2 linked regions of the Homo sapiens genome follow. The protein of the gene in region 2 interacts with the protein of the main gene of each other region in a pairwise test. Each region holds a gene or a part of one and is shown on either strand. Other genes may lie near its edges.

Region 1 (3,810 bases), on a different chromosome or scaffold from region 2:
GCAATGGGGCCAGGAGAGCAGTGGGTGACGTATGGAGAGAGGCTGGATGTGGCACTTGGAGAGGGACAGCCTCTCCCAAGAGGTGACTTTTGGACAGGGACTTGAATCTTGAGAAGTTGTCTCACACTTGAGGAGCTGGGAAAAGCATTCTAGGCACAGAGAGCAGTAAATGCAAAGGGCCTGAGATGGAAAGGGGCCTGGTATGCCAGAGGGACAGCCAGGTGGCCACTGCAACCCCTGAGGAGCTATCAAGGTGGGGAGCAGCTCCCGGGCCCGTCTCTTTGCCAATGTTCTCCACTCCCCAGCCCTGGGCAGAGACCCATCTGAGCAGGTAGGTGGAAATGGACAGCAGTTTCTTTTTCTCTTTTTTTTTTTTTTTGAGATGGAGTCTCGCTCTGTTGCCCAGGCTGGAGTGCAGAGGCGCGATCTCGGCTCACTGCAACCTCTGCCTCTGGGTTCAAGTGATTCTCCTGCCTCAGCCTCCTGAGTAGCTGGGATTACAGGTGCGTGCCACCATGCCTGGCTAATTTTTTGTATTTTTAGTAGAGAAGGAGTTTCACTGTGTTAGCCAGGATGGTCTCGATCGGCTGACCTCGTGATCCGCCCACCTCGGCCTCCCGAGGTGGGATTACAGGCATGAGCCACCGCACCTGGCCAGCAGTTTCTTAAAGGAGTCTGCTGGCATCCCTCAGGGCTGGGTGCAGTGGCTCACGCCTGTAATCCCAGCACTTTGGGAGGCCAAGGCAGGTGAATCACCTGAGCTCAGGAGTTTAAGACCAGCCTGGCCAACATGGCAAAACCCCATCTCTACTAAAAATACAAAAATTAAGCAGGTACCAGTGGTGGTGCATGTCTGTAATCCCAGCTACTCAGGAGGATGAGGCAGAAGAATCACTTGAACCTGGGAGGCAGAGGTTACAGTGAGCCAAGATTGTGCCACTGCACTCCAGCCTGGGCAACAGAGTAAGAAAAAAAAAAAAAAGTGAGGGGGCCTGCTGGCATCCCTCATGTGAAAAGAGAGAGAAAAGAGAGAAAAGGGCAAAGAAGCAGCCGGGCTGATGGGCACCGGCTTGTCTGCCAGGCTCTGTTACCGGGTGTGCTGCTGCTCCTTGGTGGCCACGTAGAAGCTGAAGTCAAACTTCCAGCCCCGCTTGGCATCACAGGCCAAGGTCGTCAGCATCCACTTGCGGGAGGGGCTCGCCGCCTGGAGCAGCCCTACTGTAGACATACAAGCGGTCAGCTTCTTGGTGAAGTTACCAAAAGGCGCTCTATACACCTAAGCAGTGGGTTGACAGAGACAAGACACATGACTCGGGGGGGCTGCCTCGGCCTGGGCCAGCCTCAGGCTCCGTCCCCTCCCTCCTCGGCATAGTTCACCCTGTCCCAGTCCTCGGAGTTGGGGACAGAGCCCTGGGCAGAGGCTTGGGAGGCCTGGGTTTGAGTTCAGCACTTGGGCAAATCCCTTCCTCCCTCTCTGAGCCTTGTTTCTTCCTTCAACAATCATTCACTGAGTGTCTGTCCCATGCCAGGCACTGTGCCAGGCTCTGAGGGGCACGGTCCCTGACCTCTTGGAGCTGGCAATGATGATGGCTTCCAAGAATAAGGAAGACAAGACAGGATAAATGGCAGGGAGAGGAGGGCAAGGCGAGAAAGGCGCCGGGGCAGGGCTCTGTGGGGACCAACAGGCATGTTGAGACCTGAACGAGCACCTAGGAGTCAGCCACGCACGAAGCTGAAGGAAAAGCTTTTCAGGCAGTGGGAACTGCACATGCGAGGCTTAGAGGCAGGAAAAGCCTCAGAGACCTCATCTTCCAAATGGAAATATAAATCCTGAACAAATGAATTGGCGCGTGTCCCTGTCACCATGGAGGGTGTGTACCACGTTAAAGAAACACAAATGAGCCTGGGCTACACAGAGAGACCCTGTCTCTACAAAAAATAAAAGATAAAATTAGCTGGCATGGTGGTGTGTGCCTGTGGTCACAGCTACTCAGGAGGCTGATGAGAGAGGATCGCTTGAGCCCAGGAGGTCGAGGCTGCAGTGAGCTATGATCATGCCACTGCACTCCAGCCTGGGTGACAGAGCAAGCCCCTGTCCTCCCCCCACCCCCAAGAAAAAGAAAAGAAACACAAATGACTCCCATGAAGGGGAAAACTCAAGTCTGGGCTCGGGGACTCCTTTCTGCAGCGCTGGAGCAGCTACCAAGGACAGCAAGATTCCTGGCCGCCACTGCCTGAGGAGGGACTGCACCCAGGCGTTCTGCACGGCACAGGCCTCACCTCACACCCCTCCAACAATGCTGGCTGGTGCTTGTTGCATCCCCATGTCACAGATGAGGAAACTGAGGCTCAGAGAGTAAGTAATCTGCCTAAAGACACACAGTTAATAAATGGCAGAGCCAGGATTTGAATCCAGGCCTGGCTGACTCAGAAGCCCACGCTGCTACCACTCGGCAGGTCCCTGTCACAGACATGGCTGGTTTAGGGGAGGGGGGTCTTCATCCTCAAAGCTGCTTCTCCCTCCCTATTGGCCAGGGCTGCCCACCAGTGTGGCCCTGAGAGCCCCCCACCACCCACAGTGGTGGCGGCTCACTTCACGACAGCCCAGGCTCACCTGGAAGGAGGGCACCTCTCCATCCCCAGGCGACACAGCCTGCCAAGGAGCAGGCAGGCTGGCATTGAGGGAGAGCCTGTAGACAGCGGGGTGGCCTTGACTCTTCACTTTAGAGATGTACACGGTGCCTGGGAAATCTACGGACAAATAAGGGATGAAAGAGGGGTGGACTTGACCTCGACTGGCTTCTCCTGACCCTGGAGCAGCCCACCCTCAGCTCTGTCGACTAACGAGCTCAGTCCTGGCCTTGGGCTCATCTCAAAATGCTGGCTGTGCCCCTCTCTACTGGACCAGGTCCATGGCAATAATAGTGGGGGAGGTGGTGGGCACAGGATGGGGTGGCAGGGATGGTGGGGGAGGTGGTGAGGGAGATAGTGGGCACAGAGATGGGGTGGCAGGGATGGTGGGGGAGATAGTGGGCACGGGGATGGGGTGGCAGAGATGGTGGGGGAGATAGGCACAGGGATGGGGTGGCAGGGATGATGGGGGAGATGGTAGGCACAGGGATGGGGTGGCAGGGATGATGGGGGAGATGGTAGGCACAGGGATGGGGTGGCAGGGATGGTGGGGGAGATGGTAGGCACAGGGATGGGGTGGCAGGGATGGTGGGGGAGGTGGTAGTCACTGGGATGGGGTGGCAGGGATGGTGGGCACAGGGATGGGGTAGGAGGGATGGTGGGGGAGGTCGTGGGCACTGGATGGGGTGGTAGGGATGGTGGGGGAGGTGGTAGTCACTGGGATGGGGTGGACTAGATAGCGGAGGTGACAGTGATGGAGGGCATCCTGCTGAAAATGTGCTAGTGTTGGTACAGGGCTGGTGCTGGGAGTGACAGTAGTAGGAGAGAGGTGGCAACAGTGCCATAGGGTGACAGGGACAGACACAGCTGCCTGATGGGGCATTCATTCCCCCAGTACACTTGACCCAGCACCCACCTCTGAGGGAGACTCCAGCAGGGACAAGCCAGTGTTCAGGGCCCAGGATGCCCACCTCTGCCCCTGGACACTCAGGGTGGCTTTGGTGCACAGGGAGGCTCTGGGGGCACCACAGACCAGGGTGTCGCGGGAGCCTACTGTCCTGGCGGGATGGGAGGTGAGGGCCCCAAATTCACCCCCCATCCCCAGCTCCTCTGCAGTGACCAGGAACACACAATCTCCTTCTTGAAGGAGAATCCAGAAGGAATTTTATCTGCTCTCCT
Region 2 (3,810 bases):
TGACCTGGAAGAACATACTCAGCCACCCCGTCCAAACAGCAAAAACTGGAAAAACCAGCTGGGCGTGGTGGCTCACACTTGTAATCTCAGCACTTTGGGAGGCCATGGCAGATGGATCATGAGGTCAAGAGATGGAGACCATCTTGGCCAACATGGTGGAAACCTCATCTCTACTAAAAAAATACAAAAATTAGCCGGGTGTGGTGGTGCATGCCTGTAGTCCCAGCTACTCAGGAGGCTGAGGCAGGAGAATCGCTTGAACCCGGGAGGCAGAGGGTGCAGTGATGCAGTGAGCCAAATTAGCGTCACTGCACTCCAGCCTGGCGACAGAGCAAGACTCCATCTCAAAAAAAAAAAAAAAAAGAAAGAAAAAGAAAGAAAGAAAAGAAAAGGAAAAACCCCAACATTCAACAATAGAATCAATACATAAATTGGGGTAGGCTGGGGGCAGTGGCTCACACCTGTAATCCCAGCACTTTGGGAGGCTAAAGCGGGTGGATTGCCTGAGCTCAGGAGTTCAAGACCAGCCTCGGCAACATGGTGAAAGCCTGTCTCTACAAAAAATTAGCCAGACGTGGTGGTACGAGCCCATAATCCCAGCTACTCAGGAGGCTGAGGCACGAGAATCACGTAAACCCAGGAGACGGAAGTTGCAGTGATGAGATCTCGCCACCGCACTCCAGCCTGGATGACAGAGACAGACTCCATCTCAAAAAAATAAATAAATAAATGAATTGGGGTAGACGTACAATAAAATATTATATGGCAATGAAAATGAAAAAACAATTGCTCCACATGACAGAATGAAAAGACTCTCAGAACCATGTGGAATGAAAAAAGCAAGACATAAAATAACACAAACAACATTCCATTCATAGAAAGTTCAAAACAGACAACAAAAAGCCCCACATTGTTTTGGACCGCATACCTACATGGTGAAGCTATAAAGAAAAGCAAGATCATCATTGCAAAAGTCGTGGGGAGGGAGTTATGCTCTAAAGTGCTGGGCGCTTGGGGGCCTGGCAAGGTTCTATTTCCCAACCCGGGCAGTAGTTACACAGTGTTTTCTTTACAATTTTTCTTTAAACTATTCATATGTTTTTATATACTTTTCTTTTTTTTTAGATGGAGTCTCACTCTGTCGCCCAGGCTGGAGTGAAGTGGCACAATCTTGGCTCACTGCAACCTCCGCCTCCTGAGTTCAAGTAATTCTCCTCCTGCCTCAGCCTCCCAAGTAGCTTGGATTCCAGGTGCGTGCCACCATGCCTGGCTAATTTTTGTATTTTAGTAGAGATGGGTTTCCACCTTGTTGGCCAGGCTGGTCTCAAACTCCTGATGTCACGTGATCTGCCCACCTCAGCCTCCCAAAGTGCTGGGATTACAGGTGTGAGCTACTACGCCCAGTCTCATATGTTTTTATATACTTTTCTATATGTATGTTACTCAATACTTCAAAATACTTCAAAAATAATAAAAAATGAAGGAGAAAGAAAAGAAGAAACTACAAGTGGCAAGGCACAATGGCTCAAGCCATAATCTCAGCACTTTGGGAGGCCAAGGCAGGCGGATCACTTGAGCCCAGGAGTTCAAGACCAGTCTGGGCAACATGGCAAAACCCCATCTCTAAAAAAAAAAAAAAAAATTAATAACAATACAAAAATTAGGCATGGTGGCGTACACCTGTAGTCCCAGCTACTCAGGAGGCTGAGGTGGGAGGATCGATTGAGCTCAGGAGTTCAAGGCTGCAGTGAGCTTGTGACTGCACCACTGAACTCCAGTCTGGACAACAGAGAGAGAGACCCTGTCTTAAAAAAAAAAAAAAAAGTACTAGCTTTGGGGTCCCTGACGACCTGTGAGCCCCCACTCTGCTGTTGCCATTGTGCAAACTGAGAAAAGCACTTAACCCCTCTGAGCCTCCATTTCCATATCTATCAAATGAGGACAGCTGTGCCCAGCCCCCAGTGCTGCTGGGAGGACCCAGTGAAGACAGACCTGGGAAGCACCGGCCCCTCCCCAGTCCCAGGCACCTTGATGGTCTCAGGGCTAACGTGGCTGTGGGTCTCCTTGAGGCGGGAGATGGAGCTGTGGCTCAGGCCCCCGACCACTGCCATCAGCGTGTTGAAGTTCTGCAGCTGTAGCAGCTTCTGGAAGGCAAATGGGGACGGAGAGGCAGGGAGTCACTGAGTGGGCCCAGAATTTGGCCCAGCTTATCTAGAGAGAAGGCAGTGGGTTAGGGGAAGGGAAGGGTTGGCCTGACTGGCATGTGGGGTGGTTGGGAGACACCGGGAGGGAGGGGCAGGCACCTCCGCCACGTGGACAAAGTGTGTGATGACCAGGGCCCGCTGCGGGGCTGTGGGTTTGCTGAGGATCATGAGCTGCACCCACTGTGAGACGCTGTTGAAGAGGGAGATGAACCGCTCCAGGACGGGGTTGTCCACAGTGCAGCCATGAGTCACGAAACTGTGATAGTCCTGAAACTGGGGGCATGAGGAGTGGCCTCAGCACCTTGCTGGCCTCTCCCCTCACTGATAGCCACTCCTCACCCTCCAGCTGACCTTCAGTGGTTACACTGAAACCCCTGATGCACCCTGTGACCCAGCCTACGCCAGGGACCCTGCCCCTCCTAGAACTCTCTTCCAGCCCACATTGGACCCCTGACCCCCCAGCCCTCGGGCCGCACCAGGATCTTGCAGAAGGAGCGATACTCCAAGTAGGTGAGATGCTCCGCCAGCTCCATGGGCTCCAGGTGGTCAAACAACAGGGACATCTTGCGCTTTTTCTGTCCCACAGGGTTCCGCTGAGTCACCTGCCGCTTCCACTTGTAGGTAGGGCTGGGGGGGCAGGGGTAGTGAGCCCTTTGCTGGACATGCGCATGACTCGTGGCCCCCCACTCACACAGACACACCATTCACGCTTACTGAGAACCTACATAATGCGAGGCACTGTCCTAGGCACGAATGTTCCCAGTCCCAGCAACTCCTCCTCATCTCCCCCGACCCCGTCATGCACTCAACACACATTTATGAACAACGTACTCTGTGCCAGGCACTGTGCTAGGCGCTGGGAATACAGAGATGAGTAAGACACGGTTCCTGCCCTCGAGGAGCTCACAGTCTACTGAGGGAGACAGACACAGAAACACATGATCACAAAACAGCGTGACACATGTACAGAGGTCTTTGTACAGGAGTCTGTACAAAGTGCCATGGAAAACAGAGGTGGGAACGACAAATTCTACCCCGGAAGAGCCCCGAACCCTCAGAGCCCACGGAGACTTCATGCCTGAACTGAGTCTTGGTAACACGGAGGAGGCAGCAAGGGGGATGATATGAGCAGAGCACCATGATGAGAAAGGACTCGAGAGCTCAGCCGACGGGGAGCCGACCCAGCGCAGCTACAGGAGGAGGTGTGTGGGATGGGTGGTGGCAGTGGAAGATGAGGCAGGAACGCCAAGCTGCCCAGAGGAGGCATGTTGAAGGCAATAGGGAGCCATGGAAGGTTTTTAAGCGAGAGAGCAACATGACCCTCACTCATTCAGTTCAACAGACATTTATTAAGCACAGATGGTATAGGATACTGAGTGCCCCCCCAGCCCTCTGTGCTCCCCCCACGCACACGCTGTCTATGTCGATTAGGCTGCTGTGCCGTCGGTTCCCTTCTTGGTCTAGCAGAGCCTTCAGCTCCTTGATCTGCTCAGCCAACTCCGGGTTCAAGTCAAACTCCGCTGGGAAGGCGGAGATCCAGTACCTGGAGGAGCGGGGAGTCACCCAAGATAGCCCTTCCCCCACCATCACCCAGCAGGCTGCAAGG

Evidence for each region.
Region 1: the proteins of RASGRP2 (region 2) and DISP3 interact in a two-hybrid assay, tested with the Homo sapiens proteins (one large-scale study listed by BioGRID and IntAct).

Annotation. Positions count from the first base shown.
Region 1 is NC_000001.11:11,524,117-11,527,926, reverse strand, and holds part of DISP3 (protein dispatched homolog 3), read right to left. Parts: intron 2,752-3,810; coding exon 2,615-2,751; intron 1,277-2,614; coding exon 1,092-1,276; intron 1-1,091. UniProt on the Homo sapiens protein: Plays a role in neuronal proliferation and differentiation. Plays a role in the accumulation of cellular cholesterol. Involved in intracellular lipid droplet formation. May contribute to cholesterol homeostasis in neuronal cells.
Region 2 is NC_000011.10:64,737,333-64,741,142, forward strand, and holds part of RASGRP2 (RAS guanyl-releasing protein 2), read right to left. Parts: intron 3,748-3,810; coding exon 3,616-3,747; intron 3,118-3,615; exon of another isoform or gene 3,036-3,117; intron 2,832-3,035; coding exon 2,681-2,831; intron 2,478-2,680; coding exon 2,304-2,477; intron 2,145-2,303; coding exon 2,028-2,144; intron 1-2,027. UniProt on the Homo sapiens protein: Functions as a calcium- and DAG-regulated nucleotide exchange factor specifically activating Rap through the exchange of bound GDP for GTP. May also activate other GTPases such as RRAS, RRAS2, NRAS, KRAS but not HRAS.